Homo sapiens: one gene and its partner. The protein of the gene in region 1 interacts with the protein of each later gene in a pairwise test. Each region holds a gene or a part of one and is shown on either strand. Other genes may lie near its edges.

The links.
Region 2: the proteins of NUB1 (region 1) and SNCAIP interact in a two-hybrid assay, tested with the Homo sapiens proteins (2 studies listed by BioGRID).

Annotation. Positions count from the first base shown.
Region 1 is NC_000007.14:151,333,489-151,349,792, reverse strand, and holds the start of NUB1 (NEDD8 ultimate buster 1), read right to left. Parts: upstream 7,982-16,304; 5' UTR 7,947-7,981; exon of another isoform or gene 7,828-7,946; intron 4,446-7,827; 5' UTR 4,444-4,445; coding exon 4,327-4,443; intron 721-4,326; coding exon 553-720; intron 1-552. UniProt on the Homo sapiens protein: Specific down-regulator of the NEDD8 conjugation system. Recruits NEDD8, UBD, and their conjugates to the proteasome for degradation. Isoform 1 promotes the degradation of NEDD8 more efficiently than isoform 2.
Region 2 is NC_000005.10:122,315,237-122,322,236, reverse strand, and holds part of SNCAIP (synphilin-1), read right to left. Parts: intron 947-7,000; exon of another isoform or gene 403-946; intron 1-402. UniProt on the Homo sapiens protein: Isoform 2 inhibits the ubiquitin ligase activity of SIAH1 and inhibits proteasomal degradation of target proteins. Isoform 2 inhibits autoubiquitination and proteasomal degradation of SIAH1, and thereby increases cellular levels of SIAH.

The DNA of each region.
Region 1 (16,304 bases):
AGTAGGGCTGGAGCCTATGCTCTTATTTCTTCTGAGAGTGCTGGCATCGATCAGTCCCAAGAGGCTCTGGGTGCCTTGCCACAGTGACATTTCTAGATGCAAACTACCTGGCCATGGCAATGAGAGGAGGTGACCCCACCCAGATCTCCTCGGCCCTGCTTGAGAGCACTCAGCGGACTGCCCTCTGACCTCTACTGGAACAGGAAAAGGATGAAGCCTTCTGTGCTGTGTCCTCCTGCACAGGCTTCTAGGAAACTTGGGAATCCTTTATTCCCCATTATTTCTCAACGTTCACACGCTAGAAAGGATCAGAATGTGACATACAGCTCTGTGGCATTTTAGAAGCCCAAGAGGGTCTCTAAAAGCCTACCTTGGGAATGTTCCAGTTTAAGAATTTGTAACATTGACTTTCAAGCTGATAAATTGTTCAATATGTAAAGTCACTTAAAAGAATTCTGACTTTGGATTGTAACTTTCCAAACAACAACAATTTATTTGACCTCATCACTAACTGGACATTAGTGCCTACTCAAATTTAGGGAAATTACTCACTTTTTTTAGTCTTGGTGGTAAAAACACCTCGATTGTAGCAATTCCCGTTGTTCTATAATTGTCATTTCCTGTTCCACGCTCAATTGCCTTGCAACGTATTTCTTCTATTACCTTTTCTACTTCATTTTCACAGCATTCTAGTCTGTCAGAGTACTGCTTAGCAAGGTCCTATCAAGAAAAATCAGAAAATGCAATACTGACTTAAAAAAAAAAAGGCAAAATATAGAAAAGGGCATGAAAGACTCTAAGGCCATCAACTCTGATGAGTGGAGGTCGCCCCGTTACACTGCAGTCCACACTGTGGTTTGACATCTTGAGAGGTGTGGAGTTTAGAGAGGCCAGGAAAAAGTGAAAACACTTATTTGAGACTGGGCGCGGTGGCTCATGCCTGTAATCCCAGCACTTTGGGAGGCCGAGGCAGGCGCATCACTTGAGGTGATGAGTTTGGGACCAGCCTGGCCAACATGGTGAAACCCCATAACTACTTAAATACAAAAATTAGCTGGGCATGGTGGCGTGTGCCTGTAGGCCCAGCTACTTGGGGGGCTGAGGCAGGAGAATCGCTTGAACCCAGGAGGCAGAGGCTGCAGTGAGCCAAGATTGTGCCACTGTACTCCACCCTGGGTGACAGAGCAAGACTCCGCCTCAAAAAAAAAAAAAAAAAAAAAAAAGCAAAAAGCAAAAAACAAAAACATTTATTTGATAAATGTTTTCTACCTACAAATAGTAAAATAATAATAATAATAGAGAATCTTCTAAGGAGAAGAAAAGGGTGGGCTATGACTTATGTGACTGTGATCTATTTAAAAAGTATAATGAACTGTTCAACTCCACTGGAAGGGAAAATGAAAAAAAAACCCAGAAAATATTCCAATTTTTCAAACTTGTGAGAACAAATCAAGTTGGACTTAAACAATTCTCTTAATGAAAATCTGTGAATCATGGGTACTAGTTGTAAAACTATTTGTAAGGGAGAGCTTTAGAATTGAGAAAAAAAAGAAGATTGAAAGGGCTCAAGAAAGGATGGGAACCAGTTATTACTGAGAGCAAAGTCATTATGGTTCCTCCCCAAAAAAATCCAGATGAGTATCTCTAATCTAAAAATCTGAAATCGCCAAAATTCAGCATCTGGAGATGCTCAAAGGAAATGCACACTGAAGTATTTTGAATTTTGAATTTTCAGATTAGGATGCCCAACTAGTAGGTATAAAGCAAACATTCCAAAATCCAAACACACTTCCAGTCCCAAATATTTCAGTTACGGGATACTCCTCTCAATCTGTATCTGCATGTGAGGTTAATGTTTCATTAAACATCTCATAAAACAGTAAACACTTCAAAAAACCCTAAAGGTCAAGGTTTCATTAAATTCATAATGTAATACCATGTAGTACGTAAAAATTATGGTGTAAGCATAAATTTATGACAGAAGAGATGTTCATGATAAAAGTGAAGTTGGAAAACTTTATAGATATGAGTATAGATTGGGCGCGATGGCTCATGCCTGTAATCCCAGCACTTTGGAAGGCAAGGTGAGAGGATTGCTCAAGCCCAGGACTTCAAGACCAACCTGGGCAACAAAGTGAAACCCCGTCTCTACAAAAACTAAAAATATATTAGCCAGGCATGGTGGCATGCACCTGTAGTCCCAGCTACTCCCAAGGCTGAGGTGGGAGAATCACTTGAGCCCAGGAGTGTGAGGCTGCAATGAACTATGGCCATGCCATTGCACTCCAGCCTGGGCAACAGATCAAGACCTTGTCTCAAAAAAAAAGGAAAAAAAATTTTGTAAGTAACATAAACCTATATATACTTTTTTTTTCTTTTAGAGACGGGGTCTCACTACGTTGCCCAGGCTGGAGTGCAGTGGCTATTCACAGGTGGGACCATAGCATACTACAGTCTCCAACTCCCGGGTTCAAGTGATCCTCCTGCCTTAGCCTCCTGAGTAGCTGGGACTACAGGCATGCGCCACTGTGTCCAGCAATACATTTTTTTAATAGTTACGTAGGAAAAGAGGAAGAATATACCTATGTTAACGATGTTTAACATATTTTAAAAATACATTCTTTATATTTTTGTATTTATATACATACTTTTTAAAACCTAGAATATATATTATAAATACTTTTTTAAAAACTTTCTATAATTTTCTAGAAAACCTAACTAGTGAGGATTTCTTTCTTCCTCCTGTCACCAGCCAATTCTGACACCAACTGGAAGTCCTACGATTCAATTCTGACACTAACTACCCAGAGTTAGCGTTAGACTCCACAGGTTTAAGGGCTCAGCCCACAAAAAAGCCCTAACTTCAGATACCAGTTACCAAGTATCTGGTCCCCAGGTTACCCATACTTTTGTCTGACTTAGCTACAAAGTCGAGGGTTCACACAAGCACCCCCTTCAGGTTCCATGATTTGCTAGAACAACTCACAGAACTCCAGAAAATGGTATACTTATGAATATAGTTCATTACAAAGGATACAAATAACCATTCACATGAAGAGGTACTAAGGCAAGGTCTGGAAGGGTCCTGAGCATAGAAGCCTCTGTCCCATGGAGTTGGGGGTGTACATCCCGACATGTGGATGTGTTCACCAATTTGGAAGCTGTCCAAAATCTGTCACTTAGGGGTTTGTATGGAAGTTTCATTATGCAGGCCTGATTAAATCACTGACCATTAGTATTAGTCATCAGCTCAATCTCCCCTTCCCAGAGGTTGGAGGGGAGGGTGGAAAGTTTCAAGTGTCTAATCACGGCTTGGTACTTTTGGTGACCAGCCCCATCCTGAAGCTATCTAGGGGCAACCAAGCCTCATGAGCACAAAGGTTGCTCCTATCATGCTTACCACTTAGGAAATCCCAAGAGTTTTGGCTCTGCCAGGAACCAGGGACAAAGGTCAAATATTTTTCCTTTATGCCACACCTAGTTTCTAAACCAAGAGACTGTAACAATAAATTCAGAAGCAAGGTCAGAAGGTGGGTTGCAAAGAAAAAGTGAGGCCTGCCTGGAACAGAAGAAACAGAAGAACTAGGACCCTAATACAGTTTGTCACCTCCCAAGCACATCATTATGTCACAACACAGAGCAATTTAATGCCTCATGACAATCCTTAGTCCCTGATAAATGTTACATCATGTTCAGGATACTCTGAATGAGAGCAGAGAAGTACATGCTAGGAAATTCCAGTATGATAGATTTCTGGCAAAAATGAGTACTGTTTCTCTGCTTAGAAAAGCAAGCAGACTTCAGTTTCTAGAAACATCACTTACATACAATATCATTTCTGATGATGCCATGAAAAACTGAGATACAACTGTTAGAAAAAACCTATTTTGGAAAAATGAACACTGATAGTGAGAGCATCAAAAAAACTGGGGGAAAAAGGAGCAATTGTTTCACAGCAGATGATGATAGCAAGGAGGACCGAGAATGAGCCAAGACACTGTCACTTTGAACACACAATGCAATTACTTACTGGCACCAATACTGTTCCACTAATGGGTCAAAATGAGTTCCAGATAAATAATGTTATGTAATCCTGTGATGGTATTAAAAATATATGCCTGAAAAATTAGATAACATCCTCATGTGAATAAAATATTAATGAACAAAAATAAGGTTGTCAGTTCCTAGTAAAAAGTGGGTACCCGCTCACCACTAATGCTTTTGGTTATGCCAAAAGTTTATATGGTCATGCCTGACAATTCAGAATCTTATTTACCAAGGAGATTTATAATGCTGCTAATTATTGATGTCTTAAAAGAAAAATACCTTTAATGCCAAACCAACTTTTTTATTTTCATCTGTATATGGAGGTTTCCAAAGTTGAATCCTGTCTTCCCTTAAAAACTGGGTCAATTTTGCTTGAAGATATTTCTTTTGTGCCATCCCTGAAAGCAAAACAATACATTAATAAAACTCCACATCGCATTTTAAAATGTTAATAACTTACCTACATGTTAAGGTGCTTTGTTGGGTAAGCAAAGCTCCCTTCCTCTGTCATTAAATATAAATTACTATGGTTTAAATGAGCTCCAGACTTCTCTAAAAATATATATAGAAATATATGTTCAATTATATATATTACATATATAAAATATGTATTTCAAAGTTGCTAATATGTAGCAAGGATTATTACATGTTTCTATTTCTTAATCTGCTATTCTCTTATCTAAGAGAAAAGAGAAAATAAGAGAAAGATAAATCCCTCGAGTCGTGAACTTCTTTTTTTCTTTTTTGAGACGGAGTCTCGCTCTGTCGCCCAGGCTGGAGTGCAGTGGTGCGATCTCGGCTCACTGCAAGCTCCGCCCCCTGGGTTCAAGCAATTCCCCTGCATCAGCCTCCCTACTCACTGGGATTACAGGCATGCGCCACCACGCCCGGCTAATTTTCATATTTTTAGTAGAGACGGGGTTTCGCCATGTTGGCCAGGCTGGTCTCGAATTCCTGACCTCAAGTGATCCACCCACCTTGGTCTCAAAACGCTGGGATTACAGGCGTGAGCTTGTAAATTCTCTCATACTTTGGCTAGTTTAACATAAAACAAAAGGCCAACCATCCTGGTAGTTAAATATAAAGAAAAGCTTGCTTGAACTGTAAACTATCGATAATAAATATTTTCGGATGGGTGTGGTGGCTCAGGCCTGTAACCCCAGCACTTTGGGAGGCTGAGTTCAGGAGCTGAGGTCAGGAGTTCGAGACCAGCCTGGTCAACATGGTGAAGCCCTATCTCTACTAAAAAAAAAAAAATATATGAACAATTAGCCGGGCGTGGTGGCAGGTACCTGTAATCCCAGCTACTCGGGAGACTGAGGCAGGAGAATCGCTTGAATCCAGGAGGCAGAGGTTGTAGTGAGCCGAGATGGCACCACTGCACTCCAGCCTGGGCAACAGAGTGAGACTCCGTCTCAAAATAATAATAAATATATAAATATTTTCTATGTCAGAATTTTTTAAATTAAAAAGATTACAATACTAGGAAAATTTTGCATATTTTCTGATTAACAGCCTAACAGCACATCTACTTTTTTTTTTTTTTTTTTTTTTTTTTTTTTTTTGAGAGGGAGTCTCACTCTGTCGCCCAGGCTAGAGTGCAGTGGTACAATCTCGGCTCACTGCAAGCTCCGCCTCCCGGGTTCACGCCATTCTCCTGCCTCAGCCTCCCCAGTAGCTGGGACTACAGGCGCCCGCCACCACGCCCGGCTGATTTTTTGTATTTTTAGTAGAGATGGGGTTTCACCGTGTTGGCCAGGATGGTCTCAATCTCCTGACCTTGTGATCCGCCCGCCTCGGCCTCCCAAAGTGCTGGGATTACAGGCCTGAGCCACCGCGCCTGGCCCTACTATTCAAATCTAACACTGATCGGATCATTTTACAGCTGAGAAAATTAGGGCCCTGAGTTTGTACCATGACTCAGGCAAAGACACAAAATTAGGCAGCATCTTAACGAGCACAACTTCCACCCACAACACTGGACTCTGAACTTCCGTCATGGAGTCCCTTGCTGCTTGCCTGTTCCAGGTATGTAACTTCTCTCTCCCAGAGAAGTATGTACCGCGATGGAGCTGTCTACTCATCCCATACTAGCACAGCAATTCAAAGGTGAGTGAGGCGGCTGAGATGTAAGGCAGCTGGCAGGTGTAGCACAGCGCTTTAAGGTTTCCCAAATCAGACAAGCAATAAGTAAAGAAAAATGTTATTAGCCCCTGAATGATGAAGACAAGTTCTAGAGAGTGGAAAAAATATGAGTTAATATTACCAAGATAAATTTCTTTCTTCTATTGAGGGCCAGTATTCCACATCCCCCCAAACCCAATTCACACAACTTTGAAATCTTTGAAAACTTTGGTAGCTTGTGTATTTCATAAACAAATATTTTTTAAAAGAAAGTTCAAATCTATTTTATGTCAGTGCGGGGACAAGAATTAGGCTAATCAGGACAGGGAGGAGAAAAGAGAGGAAGGAATAACACAGCCAATGAGGCTGCTGTGTGCAACCTGGGTGGCCCATGGGAGAATCCTCCATTTTTCAAGCACTGACAAACGGCTTATCACAGCAAAGCATATTAGTACTTAGAGCGTTAGCTTTTCAAACACAAATAACTTTAAAAACTACTTTACATACTACTCATGAATCTTCAGAAATTCTGAATAAAATATCACAGCAACCCTACTGTCTCCCCACTGGGGGACAGTAATTTCACAGGCTGGTTACTGGAGCCAAGCAATTTGAAAGGCTGATGCGGTACTCAGAGATGCCATCCAAGGCCGGGCGCGGTGGCTCACACCTGTAATCCCAGCACTTGGGAGGCCGAGGCCAGTGGATCACCTGAGGTCAGGAGTTCAAGACCAGCCTGGTCAACATGGTGAAACCCCGTCTCTACTAAAAAAATAAACAAATAAAAAATTTTTAAAAAGATGCCATCCAAGCCACCACTTGACAGAAGGACGAAGGAGTGTTACAAACCCAGTGCGTGTCAGACACTCCAGGGAGCAAACAAGAGCTCCAGGGTTACACCGAATAAGATTTAATGTTAAAAAAAAATTAAACCACTGTCTTGAAACTTAAGGAACTTCAGTTATAGACAACAGAGTAAGTGGCGACATATTTTAAGTCAAGTTTAATAAGTCAGTTTTTAATTTTAACTGAAATGAGAACTGAAAAAGTTTCATGCATGCCATACAATGTTTCACATTGTAACTAAGAAAAGACGAAACTCATTAATATCACTCCGTGGTCCAAGCAGAAAGTGAAACGTTATAACGATCCTTTAAAAATTTCACTTTCACTTTTGTAATGAATCGATCATTGCTACATTTAGCCACACCTTTTCAAGTATACATTATATATAGTTGAAACACAACTATATCTAGTCAAGACACATTCATTTTTTCTTAGGAAAATGAAAGATTCTTGATTAAAAATAAAAGGGAAGGAGGTGAGAATGATAGAATCAGGTCGTCAAGGTTCGAGAAAATCAAGTGTCTTGTCATTAAATAGCAAAGAAAATCTGGCTTTGATTGCAAATAAATCCCAAATGGTATACTCGGAGTGTTACGATTCAAGTATAGCATTTGGCTAATTTTTTATAGACATATTTATTCCTTTCTCTCCCCAAACCGATACACTCAATATTTTCTTTTAAATACCCCACACCTCTGCCTAACTCAGGGCAAACCAAAGGGCCCCGAACGGCCAGCGCGTCCCGAAGCCCGGCCCACCGCTCCCGGCCCCGGCCCCGGCCCCGGCCCAGCTCCACGCATGGCTGCTCACCCCCGCCCCGCGGCCGCTCCACCCCTGGCCAGGAGAGGTGCCCAGTCGGACCGGGAACCGGGGCGCCAAGCAGTGCTGCTGAGGCTGGGGTCGAGGACACTCGGCCGCCGTGTCCTCACCTGCGCCACGCCACTCCCGCCGCGACCAGCAGAGTGCCCGGATGCGGCAGCGGCCGCCGTTTGTTTTCATTCCGGGTGAGGCCAGCCCCGCCCCCGCCGCCGCTGTCGCCTTCGCGCCGCCGCCGCCGCCGCCGCTTGGAAAGAGGGTTGTGGGCGGGGCCAAGGCGAAGCCAGCTGTGGGCGGGGATACGGTTGTGTGGGCGTGGTTACCGCGGGGCGGAGCCGCGACGGGGCGGAGCTAAGCGGAGGCGGGGCTGGGCGAGGATGTGGCCGTGTGGGGCGAGGACCTGGGAGTTGGTGTCCAACGCCACCCCAGGCTCAGTCTTCCAGGACTTCCCGCCCGGGCTCAGTTTGCCAGCCATCAAGAGGAAATGGATCCTGGCTTTGTTTCTCCAGAATCCTTGAAAGAGGCTGGGGGAAGGGTCGGGACCGTCCCAACCCGCATCTCATTCCTCAGCCTAGGCTGGACCCCTTCCCTAAACCAGCGGCTTTTCACCCCGCCCTCCACAAGCCCACCAGGGGCTTCCCTGGGGTGAAATTAGGCTGCTTCCCGGGAATTTCCTCCCCCATGCTGTCCACGGCCACTAGGGACCACAAGGCCTAGGGAGCTCTGCCTACTTCCAAGGTCCTATTCCCAAGGCTGTGCTCAACAGTGACGCTTCTATTTTATTATCAGTTATTGCTGTTAATCTCTTACTGTGCCTAATAAATTAAACTTTATCGTAGGTATGTACGTATGTATAGGAAAAATGAAGTGTGTGTATATATATAGTATATATATATGTGTGTGTATGTAAAATGGGGTGCAGTACTATCCGAGGTTTCAGGCATCCACTGTGGGTCTTGGGACACACCACCTGTGTGTGGACGAGAGGGGACTCCTGTAACCTTGCAGTGACCAATCCGTTTTTCGTTCCCTGTTGCTGCTTTCTTTAGCCCTTTTCTACCTATAAAGCCCACCTCCTCTGCCCAGCTCGTTGGAGCACCGTTTCTAAATTTTCAGAGAAGATGCCATCCTGATTCATGAATCAATAAAAACCAATAGATCTTTAATCTAAATTTGTGGTAATTTTGACTTCTGACAAAGGGATATTAATAACTGTATAACCGCACCAGACCAATCTGATTCGCCTTTTATATACCCAAGTTGTGAGTTGTTTTTCAGTTGCATGGACTCCCAGATGGAAGGTTTCGCACGTAACCTGAGGATGCCCAGGTGAACCAAGCATGCAACCAGGGGCGGAACCTGAGTGCTCAGATCAAAGCAGGGACTGAATTAAGAAATGGGCACTGCATGGTGAGATCCAGAATGCAATCAGATCAAGCCCTGGTGTCACCCCATGGCAGGGTCCAGTCAGATGAGCATCCCAGCATCACCTCATCGCAAAATCTAATCCGATCATGCGTCATTACCCTATGCTTATAAAACCCAACCCAGCCCCAAGCTCAAGGAGACAGAGCTGAGGGTTTCCTCATGTCTCCTTGACAGTCAACTCACAATAAAGCCTTTCTTTTCTCAAAAGCCCGTGCCATGGTGTTGGCTTCTAGCACATCAGGAAAAAGCCCGTTGATTGCTCAGTAGCAATTGCAGCAAGGTAGAAGGACAACAGAAACTGTTCTGACATTTTTTTCTGAGGGCTTTCTCTGAGATGAGTAACAAAGATAGTTTCACTTTTACATTTACGTAGTAGACCATCAGGAAATTGAATGTCCACGCTCAGGTGTGATGGAGCAGCTTGCAGTAGACCAAGGCTCCCACTAACAACAACTAGAAAAGCCAGAAAGCGAAGTCAGAAAACATCTGTTTGAAGGCAGTGAAAGCTGCTGAGGCAAGAATGGGGGGACTTGATATTCCAGAGAATGAGGAACCTTCAAGGGGTGAGCTAATGTCTGCAGTGGCTTGTATTGGTGTGTGAGGGCTTTTGCCAGTTCTGGATACAAGCATGAGGCTGAGAATTTAGACTTTGAGACCACAGAGGGCCACTGCTGGGGACACAAAACCAACACAGCGATGTAGGGGGAAATTCCAAGGACAATTGCTGAATTCAAGGCTTGTATGGGGCAAGAAACTGAAATGTAAATGGAAGGCCTCTGAAAGCAGAAGTTTTTGATAGACTTGCAAAACAAAGATTCGAGTCTGAGATCTGCTAGGGTGGTGGTGGAAGTGGGTTACTGCAGAGCCTACACCATGTTCCCAGTTGGAAACTGGAGGGCAACGGTAGCTTGAACCCTACCAGAACCTCAGCCCAGCCTTCACTCCATGCAGTCCCTGATTGGATTAAGGTTATTGGCCACTCCTGTCTTTGGTTTTGTGGAGGAAAGGGAAAAACCCTCCTGAGAGAATGATAACATTTGAAGCCTCTACAACTTTTTAGAAGCTATATTTGGCATCTCATTAAAAAGTTACTAGATAAAAAAAGAAAAAGACAATAGAAACAGACCCACAGATGAGTCAGATATTGGAGTTGCCTGATTAAAATAACTCTGATGAACATTTTCAAGAAAACAGAAAAAAAGATGAAAATTTTCACCTGAGTATTGAAATCTATAAAAATAAATCAAATGAAAACTCTAGAGGTGAAAAGTGTAATAAATGAGGCTGTGAACTCTGGATGTTAGACAAAACTAAAGACACGATTAGTGAACTGCAGGCACATCAATAGAAAATATCCAAACTGAAGCATAGAAGGAAAGAATGGAAAATACAGAAACAAGCATTAGAGACACATGGGACATGATGAAAAGTTCTACCAGGTATTCAGGTTTCTAGAAAAAGAGAGAAAGGGGCAGAAACAATATTTGAAAAGATAATAACCAAGAGTCCAAGTTTCGCAAAACTGATGAAAGACATCAAATTACAAATTCTGTAAGTTCTATGACTCCTAAGCAGGATAAATACAAAATCAGCCACACCCAGTGCATTCTAGTAGAACCATTGAAAACCAAGGAAAAAGATAAAATCTTAAAAGGTGCCAGGGCCAGGTACGGTGGCTCACGCTAGTAATCCCAGCACTTTGGGAGGCTGAGGCAGGTGGATCACCTGAGGTCAGGAGTTCGAGATGAGTTTGACGAATACGATGAAACCCCGTCTCTACTAAAAATACAAAACTTAGCTGGCTGTGGTGGAGGGCGCCTGTCATCCCAGCTACTTGGAAGGCCGAGGCAGGAGAATCGCTGGAACCTGGGAGATGCAGGTTGCAGTGAGCAAAGATTGCACCATTGCACTCCAGCCTGGGCAACAGATTGAGACTCCATCTCAAAAAAAAAAAAATTAATTTAATTTAATTAAACAAAAAAAAGGTGCCGGGGAAAAGATGCATTGCCTTTTAAGATTGTCAGCTGACTTCAGAAACAATAAATCCAGAAGACAATGGAATGGCATCTTTAATGTGCTAAAAGAAAATACACATGTTTAGTTCAACGTTCCTTAATATTTTAGGCAATAAGATTTATTGAGAACACAGAAATGGTGCAGACTTGTGCTTTTATCTTTGTCATGCATATGTGATGTCTTCTGGAATTAAGTTTAAAAAAGCAAAAGAAGTAAGTTATTCTGGCCTCCCATGGAGGTTTCTCAGATGGTAAGCCTACAGTGATGAGTAGCCACCTTCTTACTTCCAAGGTCACCTTAGTTTTTATTCACCCTTAAACTTAAAGTCACATGACTAATATTGTATATCGAATTCTTTTTAACATTAAAAGGGGTTAAAAAACAAACACGGATAAAACACAAACAGATGATCCTGAACTTAATTCAGTAGTACTAATACCACGGATTTATTTATTTATCATCTCTCTCCTTATTTTTTTATCTTGTTAGAGTAAGTGTATCACCTACCCAACTTTTTTTTTTTTTTTTGAGGCGGAGTCTTGCTCTGTCACCCAGGCTGGAGTGCAGTGGCACAATCTCAGCTCACTGCAAGCTCCGCCTTCCGGGTTCACGCCAATCTCCTGCCTCAGCCTCCCAAGTTGCTGGTACTACAGGCACCCACCACCATGCCCGGCTAATTTTTTGTATTTTTAGTAGAGGCGGGGTTTCACCATGTTAGCCAGGATGGTCTCGATCTCCTGACCTCGTCATCTGCCCGCCTTGGCCTCCCAAAGTGCTGGGATTACAGGTGTGAGCCACCGCGCCCAGCTGCACCTACCCAACTATTGAGACAAATGAACCTGGGTTAAAAAATTTGGACCAGAATATGTCAGAGATTCAAAACCAGAACACAAAATTTGAGGACTGATTACATGCTTCCAGAATGATTCTACCTGAATCACAGGTGAGAAGGCCAAGCCCTTTCTCACAGTGACTATGGCAACAGGAATTCATGACCTCCACTGAAATAAGGCATCCTAGCCCATGTTTCCTAGGAATCAGAGTAATCCTCCTATGCAATGACCTTGTAACTTCTTTTAGCTTCTATCATCTGTTTGGGTGATTGAAATTCTGGATTCCCAATCAGATGTGAACAACTTTTCCTCACCACTAACTTGATTTCTCTTTCTTCCATGTTCTTCATATCCAACTAAGATGCTGAATAAAATTACTATGTCTCCAAACAGCATGTTAAAAAATTATTTATGGGCTAGGAGCGGTGGCTCACGCCTGTAATCCCAGCACTTTGGGAGGCCAAGGTGGGCAGATCACGAGGTCAAGAGATTGAGACCATCCTGGCTAACATGGTGAAACCCTGTCTCTATTAAAATACAAAAATTAGCTGGGCGTGGTGGCGCATGCCTGTAGTCCCAGCTACTTGGGAGGCTGAGGCAGGAGAATCACTTGAACCCGGAGGCGGAGCTTGCAGTGAGCTGAGATTGCGCCACTGCACTCCAGCCTAGTGACAGAGCGAAAATCCATCTCAAATATATATAATTTATGACACTTGTTAAAGAAGGCCATTCAAAGAGGCCATGACAATATGTATAGGGACCCCTGCAACAGGTCTTGCAGTGGGGGAGAGAGACTGGACTCAACTCCAAGTCCAATTAGGACATGTGGGAATTTATAATCAAGGAACAAGAGGGGCAGAAGGGGGGGTCAGTGGATGAAAAATCAAAAGAAATATCAAGGAGAAGGGGCTTCTGGCTAAAATGACTTGATACTATTGTTGCTGAAGGCAGGCCAGGGTGACCAGATAAAAGATAAAAGGATCAGATACAAAAGATGAGGGCCTTCTCTCAACTGACTTGGCAAAGTTCTTGCTCTAACTGGATTCTACAAGAAGAGAGAGGAGCCCAAGGCTGCGCCTAATCAGAAAGGACTCAGGAGACTGACTAAAGTTTGGTCAGAAGAGAGAGCCTTTGTCAAGGATTCCTAGTAAAATAGAAAACCCACCAGACTGAAAGTGTGAGTCATCGTTCAAATTCCCCAAAAACTCCAGTCGATAACCAGTCCCCAGAAATTCCCATTTATAAATAGGAAAGTCAAGAATTAACTTGTTTTCTTTTTAAATCCACTTCCCCATGTACAAAAGAATTAGTTTACCACACAACTTAATCCAAAGCATATACGGTCATCCCTTCGTATCTGTGGGAGTCTGTTCCAGAACCACCTACAGATACCAAAATCCTCAAACGCTCAAGTCTCTGATATGTAAGGGCGTAATATTTGCATAGAACCTATGCACATCCTCCTTGTGCTTTAAGTCACTTCCAGATCACTCATAATACCTAATACGATGCCTACACACCACGTCGTTCGTGTGGATTCAGCACAGTACTCAGCATGCCGCTAATTCCAGTTTTGCTTTTGGGAACTTTATAGAATTTTTTTTTCCTGGATATTTTCCATCTGCAATTGGCTGAATCCATGGATGCAGAAGACACAGACATGGAAGGCTGACCGTATCATTCTGATCAAAGCAACTATCAATAAAGAGGAGCTGCCAAAACTACCTGTTACTTTTCACTCTTCTAACAGGAATCGATAATACTCAGCATTAAATTTTGCTATCGTGCAGAGGGTGTTTAAGGAGTTTCTGATTTTACTCCAACAGAAGTAAAGTTGGTTAAGTAGAAGTTCCTTGATTCTTTATCACCACAATACCCATGCCAGGCTCTTGGCCACTGCCTGAGAGTCAGGAAAACCACACACACAGGGGCTTTGACCACCCTTCAATTCTTCCACTGCTGCTAGGAAAATAGCATGGGATTCAGCCCACAGAGCTGCCCATGTTTTCACCTTCTTGGATCAGAATGGCATCTTTCCAAATAGGATGTTGTTCATTCACCTTGGAACTGCCATCCACAAACCTGCCAGCTTTTTCTTGGTCAACTGAGATGAGTCCCTTTGACTCTCCCTTTTGCCTTTCCCCAGTCTCTTATTAATTAACCTAATGTTTTTTATCAGCATCTGTAAGACCCATGAGGGGAAGCCAAGAGAGCAATTTGGATAAAACTTCCTAAACTGTCTTTTGGTTTTCATCAATAAAGTTATATGGAGCATCCACATTAAAAGGGGCCCCTTAACCACAGCATTTACCATGACCTGAGTAATGGGCCTCTTCAGCAAGTGAACATCCCAGTCATCAAAAAGCCAGTTCCACATCACACGCATATGAAGCATATGAGCTGCTTCATCCGGGGTGTTTCACTTGGCATTTATAGGACCTGTAATCTCCAGACAAAATCAATTCACTGAGACAGCGGCACTGCAGTAAAGAAAGAGATTTATCGATGCAAGGCCAGCCATGCCACCTGGAGAGACAGAGTGATCACTCAGATTAGTCTCCCTGAAGGTTTAGAGGTTAGGGGTTTTCAAGGATAGTTTGGTGGGCAAGGGGCTAGGAAATGGATGCTGCTGATTGCTGGGGGATACAATCATTGGGGCATGCTGAGCCCACCTTTGGGTGGGGCCACAGGACAGGCTGGGTCATGAGTCACAAGTCCACTTCTGGGTGAGGTTAGTCAATTGCTAGAATGCAAAAGTCTGAAAAATATCTCAAAAGACCAATCTGAGGTTCTATAATAGTGATGTTAGCTATAGGAGTAATTGGGGAAGTTACAAATCATGTGACCTGAGAACAATGCCTGGCTATCGTTTAACTATGCCTACATCTTAGCAGAATTCAAGCCCATCTCATAAACCTAACCTGGTAGTCTTTCATTAGTTTTAGAAAGGTGGCTTAATTTTGGAAAGGCCCATTATCATCCTTGCTTTAAGGTTAAACTGTAAACTAAATTCTTCCCAAAATTAGCTTGGCCTACACCCAGGAATGACTGAGGACAGCTTGGAAGTCAGAAGCAAGATGGAGTCAACTACGTCAGATTTCTCTTACTCTTATAATTTTGCAAAGGTGGTTTTAGGGAGAATCGAACAATTCCTCTTTACAGGGTAAGCAGAACTTACAGTGGCTTTTATCCAGTCCAGCAAGCTGTATTCCATTGGGAATAACCTGCTGTGTGTCTGCATCCCATACAACCATCTGTGATTGTTCTATAGTGAGCTGTGGGTTCGGCATCAACTCAAAATGCTCTTCCACCCGGCATCATTGAAAACTAAAGAAAGTGCCCCCAAATTAGTTACTCTCACAATCCATTTTAGTAAATGTTCTTCAGGAAGCCGGTGATGCCAATCCACAACACGAAGCAATTCCTCCACACTATACCTTCTGGTTTCAGTAGTTTCTTGGTTTTGCTTTTCCCCCACATTGACTACCTTAGTAACCACAGGCCTTAGAGGTACTTTCGGTTGTCCCTGAATAATTTTCCCTTTGGAAGTAGCTTTGAGGCTGGTGGCCAGACCTCAGACTCAACTAAAATGTGAGCTTGATTTAGTATCAAGGTCCCCGCCAGCACTCTCTTTTAATTTCATTTTAGCTGTTTCAGATAATAATTACCTAGGAAATGAGTATTTGTCATTTTCTTATTAGCTTGCATTTTTTTCTCCCCCCTTTCCTCTGTCTCTTTCTTTTCTTTTTTCTTTTCTTTTTTTTTTTTGAAACGGAGTCTCACTCTGTCACCAGGCTGGAGTGCAGTGGCGTGATCTTGGTTCACTGAAACCTCTGCCTCTTGGGCTCAAGCGATTCTCCTGCCTCAGCCTCCTGAGTAGGTGGGACTACAGGTGCCCGCCACCACACCTGGCTAATTTTTTGTAGTTTTAGTAGAGACGGGGTCTCACCATGTTAGCCAGGATGGTGTCGATCTCCTGACCTCATGATCCGCCCGCCTCGGCCTCCCAAAGTGCTGGGATTACAGGCATGAGCCACTACGCCCGGCCTCTTTTCTTTTTTCTTTCCGGACAAGGTCTCACTCTGTTGCCCAGGCTGGAGTGCAGTGCCATGAGCATGGCTCACTGCGGCCTTGAACTCCTGGACTCCAGAGGTCCTCTCACCTCAGACTCCCTAGTAGCTGGAACTACAAGTG
Region 2 (7,000 bases), on another chromosome or scaffold:
CTTGCAAAATTTAAATACTGCATGTGCAAAGGCAAATTGACATAGGATATAAATCTCCAGTTCTCTCAGAGGGAGTAGTGATGACTCTAAAACCACTGGAAACAGAAAGTTCATCGTGATGACTCTAACAGCTCCCTGATGCAGGCTACTCTTCTCTTGTATATTTAATGTTCTATATATGTCAGTTGGCCTTGTTTGCAATCTCAACAGGAGGCTTGTTCACTGGACGAGTTTTTGTTTTTGTGTTTGGTCTGTCCTGTTTTTTTGTTTTTTTTTTCCATGTTGTTGAATAAGACTTATGATTTCACATACTAGACTGCTTATAAGTTCTTCTAGTATTTGGTATTAAAAGAGGTGAAACAAAAACTAAACAAGGTGTATACAGTCTCAATACAATTCTAGGTTAGAAGCCTAGATGTGTGACTGGAGATGCCTCCTGTCCATTCAATCTGACTCCAATGTGGTTCTGCAGCACTGGACAAAGATGGGAGATTGAAACAGGAGCCCCTGCGATGGGGGAACAGAGCCAGGGAGCAGGGGTTGGACAGGTAAGCCTCCATATACCAAGCCCTTCAACTCCTGGAGTTACAGTTATCCCTCCTTTGTTCATTAATGATTCACCATGTACCCACTGCCAATGGTGGGCTTTCTAAACACTGCACTCTACATGAGAGATAGAAAGATGACAAAGACATATTCCCTTCCCTCAAGAACCCAGGTTTGAGAAAACAACCTTGTGAACCTTCTATTGGAGCAGCAATAAAGATCTGAGCTAAGTGTCGAGGGAGGCTGAGGAGGTGGTCACTAAGTCTGTCTTAGGCATCCCAGGGTCTCCTCAGAGTCCAAGCCTGAAGTCCACTGCAGGGGTCACCAGCCACCTGTGGCCACATTGGAATGTGGCCATTCTGAATTGAGGTAAGTAAAAAACATACACCAAATTTCAAAGATGTAATATGGGAAAAAAAGAATGTAAGGTACTTGGTTAATGATTTTTTATATGGATTACATATGGAAATGCTACCATTTTGGCTATATTGGGTAAGATATATTATTAAAATTGATGTCACCTGTTCCCTTTTACTTTTTTAAGCGCGCCTGCTATAAAATATGAAATTGCCTGCATGGCTCCCATTCATGGATCCTATTACATTTCTATCTGCCAGTGTAGGTTGGTGCAGTCACAAGACAATGCTTCAGGAGAAAATCTGGGGAGGCGGTCTCAGGGCAAGAGGGTGAGTGGGGGAAATGCCTATGGAATGAGAAAGAGACAACAGGGGGACCGACCCATCAAGGGCTACAAAGAAGGTGAATTTGCTTTCTGAGTTGTGCTTGCCTGCCGGACTCATTTGCAGCAAGAGAGACCAGAATATAAAGGCCACGATAATAACATCTCAAATAAATTAGAAGCAGCTTGTGGTTTATAGTGAGCAATGCTCTACTGGGGACCAGACCAAGCAGTTACCCCTGTCTTCACTCCATCTGTGGTTAAGTCATTTGGTCACTGTTGCCTTCTCATCTGCAAAGCGGGGACTGAGATTAACTGCTTGGCCTGCATATCCCCCTGACTCTGTCAACTAAGTTTTCGGAAACCTGAAGCACTCTAAACATCCTGGGGGAAGAAAGGGCTGGAGAAACATACAATGTTTTGTGATCAGAGTTTTTAAGCTGAAAAGAATGAAGAAACTTGAATAGAATAAATTCTTGATACTTCCTTTTTCATAACACTTACCACGCTTTATTTCGATTATTTATTAGCCCCCTTCCTAGCTAGATATAAGCTAGCTATAAATACCATGAGCTCAGGACCCACATCTGTCTGCTCACTGCTGTGACCGCAACTTAGAGGACAGAGCCCAGAATACAGGCCTCAATAAATACTGTGGAAGAGGGGTCACATGGAGAATTTGCAGTCATTTTTGCTGTTGAGCATCTGTTAAGTTAAAGTTTCCAAGTGTGCAAACTGTACTCGGAAATGAGTAAGAAGTAGAAACTTACCTAGAGATGATCAAACCAGTAGTGCTGTCACTCTAATGATGTTATCTGTCCCACTGTGAAAACATTGTCACAGGTGAAGGAGGAGAGTGAGGTGAGACCTTCCCAGCCCTTGACTGCTCTTGCACTGGACACATTCCAGGAAGCTCTTGTGGCAGAAGCAGCCACTTAACTTACTTTTAACAAGAGAAGCTGAAGGCTGAGGGAAGTCAGGACCAACAGAGGATCCAAATTTCAGTGGCACAAGTCTTAAGCTTCATTTGGTTGCATGAATGAGTGCGGAAGCAGCATGAAGTAGTGGTGATACAAACCTGGGTTCTGTGTTTAATTCTATTCTCAGTACTTTCCCAGTGGGAGACTGTGAGTTCCCTCTCTGAACCTCGTTCTCCTCCATGGCTTAAAACTGGACTCATAATGCATGGCTTAGCTATAATGTACCTTTCAAAAAGGGCTGGCATCCGGTAAACACTGAATAAATGGTTACATGTCAAACACAGTAAACATTCAACAATGGCTAATATCTTCCTTCTGCATCAGCTTTTAAAACAGATTTTTTAACCTGGAGTCCAAGGAGTCCCAGGAAATCCACAGACGAGATTCAATGGATCCTTGAAATCCCTAAAATTAAATACAAAGCGGGGTATGTGTGGACATCTTTTCTCTTCAAGGAAAGAATCCATAGCTTTCATATGATGCTCTTAAGACTCTCAGACTGAAAACAGTTTAAGAACTATTGAGTTTCTGTGGCTTCCAAAGTGTTTAGCTCCTTCTATTTATCTATGGAATAGCTCTGTGAATGACTCTCAAAACCAAGCTTTTCTGTGCCTCCTCAAGAGGCCTGCATTTTATATGCAGCAGTACAACTTCCTTCCATAAGACGCTTTTATTTTCTGGCAGCAGCAGTATCACAGGAAGATGACTGGAATTTATAAGTAAGAAACTGATCTTAATTTCAACAATAGTACTGGAGCCCTTACCTCTTTAAATACACCTTTTTCCATAGTTTTTTTTTTTATAGGATTGATGACCAAAGAAGGCAGCTATAATGTTTTATTCTCAAGATGATGGTTACTCATCTTAGAATAAAAACAACAACAACAAAAAATAACAGATGAATGGGAAGAGCCCAATCAAAGCTTTATTCTACTCCTCAACAACTCAGGTGAGTGTCTGGCCACTTGGCAGTCGCCAGGAGGAAGGAGCTTAGTGGCAGACAAACTGCTTCAAATCTCTAAATCTTTGTTTCCTCATCTGTTAAAAAAAAAAAAAAAAAAAAAAGATGATAACAGTGACGCCTCCTACCTAGGGCTGCTGTGAGAACTAAATAAGAAAGTAATTGTAAGGCATCTTTTAAGTACTCAAAACAGAGTGCCTCATAAATATTAATTATTAAATATCCTCTCTGATGATAGGGGGAAAAGGATTCCTTATCTGGTCTCTGACCCATAGATTTTAGCCTGGAGATTTACTCTGGGTCACTGATATTTTCCAGCCTCCTCCTTAAGGTTGTTATTAGTGACCAAGTAATAAGTAAGTATATAAACCATTGAGAAAACTGTTGAAAAAGTGTCTGAGCAGCAGCTTCAAAGAGAATCTGTCTTCATGTCCCAGTATCCTAAGAGGCAAATGTGAAAATCAATTTAAAGGAAATAGAATATACCTAAAGAAAGTCACCTGAAAAAATGAAAGATGAATGATTCAACACACATTTTTCTCTCATTTATTTAAAAATTTTTGAGATACATGGTGGGCAAGGCACTGTACTGAGCACAGGATGTGCAAAGATAAGGAAGTAAGTCCAGCTCTCAAGACATTTAGTCTACAGAGGGAGACACACATGTATATCCAACGCCATACGTACCACAGGATAAAGTGTGATGTGGGGAGAGGCTGGGAGGGGATGTTCAGCAGGGGCTTCTTGAAAAAGCAACACTTGAGATGAGTTTGGAAGGATAAGTAAATGTTTAATAGTTCATAGTTTGAGAAAGAAGAAACAATATTCCACAGAGACAACAGCCCATGTAAAAGCACATGCAATGAAGCATTTAAGCATGGGGATAATATGGGCAGCTAGAAGAAGGCGTTGCTGAACATACCAGCACCTACCCATCCCCTGCACCCACAGGAGGAGGCAGGACTCACCTCAGAGAGAATCTTGGAATTCATGGTAGGAGCCTGTACTTTTCTCCAGGACTATGACAAGGTTTGGAATGGTTCTTAGCAGGGAGTTATATAATTCAATTTTATCTATTCTTTAGAAAGAGCAAGCAGGCAGCGGTGAGGAGGATGGATTGAAAGCTGAGAGACTGAAGGCAGCATTTGTAGAGGTGACTTGGGAAGAGTGAAACATGAAAGGAAGTGGAGCAGGAGGTCTTGGTGACTGATTAGGTGGAGGAAGAAAGGGAGAAGGTCAGATCGAGATCATTCCCAGGTCTCTGGCTTGGAGGTGTAGTGAGAGGATGATATGCCTGTCAGGGAAAACAGGTGTTATAGTATTTAATAGATATCTGCTGTTTCTGCACGCACAGCATCTCCTATCTCTTCTTTTCAATATTTCCTTTTAAAAACTACCCCTTCCCTGCTCTCAGGTTATATGGTTTAGAAGAGTTTTGCTGACTAGTCTCCCATGTACTTCCTTCACTCCCATACACTCCTTCCCACCTGCCGTCACACATACCACTCTCCCCTTCCAAAAGCCTCCAGGACTGGGCTCATAATCAAAGCTGAGTCAAGTGGCATGGTCCAAATCTCCGGCCATAGGGTCTGGTTCAAGCATATGCATGTGATCAAAGTGGTCTAATTAAAGTTAATCCTGAATTCTCTTTTTCTCAGGAGTTAAGCCTAAAGCTGCAGATGAAAATTTTGCCACCATGAAGAAAAGAAGAAATCAGAATTGGATTCTTTCTGAACTTTTCCTTTACAGTAGCCAGTATATGCCCTTTCCTACTTGAGCAAGTATAAACTGGGTTTCTGTGATTTGCAACCAAGTGTCCTGACAAACACAAGGATGAAAGACAACTGTGTCTCAATAAAGGAAAAATAGTTTATTTTTATGAGTGGTGGATTTAAAAAACCTACATTACTGTGACAAGAGTACCTTAAAACATTTAAGTCTACAAAAGGCACTTAGGGACTTTATAGCAAACTCTACACTTATAATGAAAAGCCAGACCAGATCATTTTAAAAAAACGTTACTGCACGAGATAATGGCACATCCACTCGTTCAATTAACATTTATTGAGTGTCTTCAGGGGTTTTAGACTTGTGCAATAAAAATGATAAAAACGTATTCTTTGGTTTGAGCTGGTCCATCCAAGGTCGTTCCATAAAGAGCAGCTGTGTATGCTGTTCAGACTAATTGTGTGAAGCTGGAGAGGCCAGGTGTTTCTGTCTGGCCCAGCAGCTGCACTTTGCGGTAAGGGCACCACCTGAATTTCAGTCTGGCCATAAAATGAGGCTGAAGAAACAGCACCTTGCATGAGCTTTTAGGTGAAAGGCAGAACAGAACATGTTTAGAATTCTTCTCCCTTCTATTAAACATCCATTAACGTTAATGAAGGAGTCTGGATGAGGCATTGTGCCAGACCGTCTTTTCTTTATTTTCCACGAGAAAACTCCACCACAAGCATGGGTTCAACTATTATTCATGCATCTACACTCTATGGACATATGCCTAAGTTGTCACCTCCTGCCTTCTTACCTCTTGCTTCCCCACGTCTAGGCCGAAATAAATCTTCAAGTGTTCATCTGTGGTGAGCATTTGTTGGTCTTGTCACCCTATTTCCATCTCCACTTCTGACAGCAGTGCTCCAGTGTCCTTTAAGGGTGAACCCACCCACTTTGCATTGTGTGCTGACCTGGTGTGGCTGTCAGTCAGTGCTACTGGCTCAGGAGTGTGGATGCCACTCAAATTAAGTCAAAGGTGTTCTCTTGCCTGGTATGCTTAGTTTAAGGGAAGAGCATTCTAAGAGTAGACCTTCCATCCTGAGAGTAGTGGTTCTGACTTCCCTTTGACATCTTAGGGAATCCCTGAGGTTGTATTTTGTTTTCTGTTGATATACACATAAAGAAACTTAACTATATACAATAGTGCACTGTGATTTAAACACTAAACAATAGCTAACATTCATAGCCTACTCTGCAGCTTATAAAGTACTTTGACATTCAATTTATCTCTTTTAATCAACATTTCTGGAACTGAATTTTTCTCCTCCCCCAAATAAATCCCTTATTGATTTTTCTATTTCTTACAAAAGCACAATCATTCTTTTAGTCACTTAAGTATTTTTAAATCTCAGAATGCTTTCGACTTTTTACTTTTACTAACCCCCTATAATCAGTCACCTCATCCTAAATATGGGATCTCCCAGATCGACCCCTTTCCAATTTTCCTGCCTCCATTTTTCTCAAAAACATCAACTTTCAACAATGCTCAGCTCACCCTGCCACCAGCCTCCTGTCTCCAAACCATCCCAACACCACTGTCAGAAGGATATGACTAAAATTTTATTATCATTGTGTCATACTTCCTCTACCTGGGGTTTATAGAAAAAAAATTGCAGGACAATGATTTACTGGACAATTACTTAACCTAAATCCTGGGCTATTGCTAAGCAGGCTCCAATATGCTCTCCTAACATATTATTTTCAGCAGAAAACATCTGCTAGACACAAGTATCCTCAAAAATGTAGTAGATCACAAAAACTGGCTCTAATTTTTTGCAGCTCCTTCTCATCATAAGTGGACTCTTTCTATACCCCTTGAATCTGGGGTAACCTTCTGACTTGACATGGCTAATGGGAGAGTAGCTAATGTGATTCAAGGTGAGGTTTTAAAGTTGCTTTTGCATTGCAGGTTGTTCTTTTACTGCTCTTACAACACTATTTGATTTGCCATGTAAAGAAGCCAAGGGGAGTGTGCTGGAGAATGGGAGGTACATCCCAGCCACTCGTTATGTTACCCTGGCCAACAGTCTGATAACTGCCAGACATATAAGTAAAGCCATT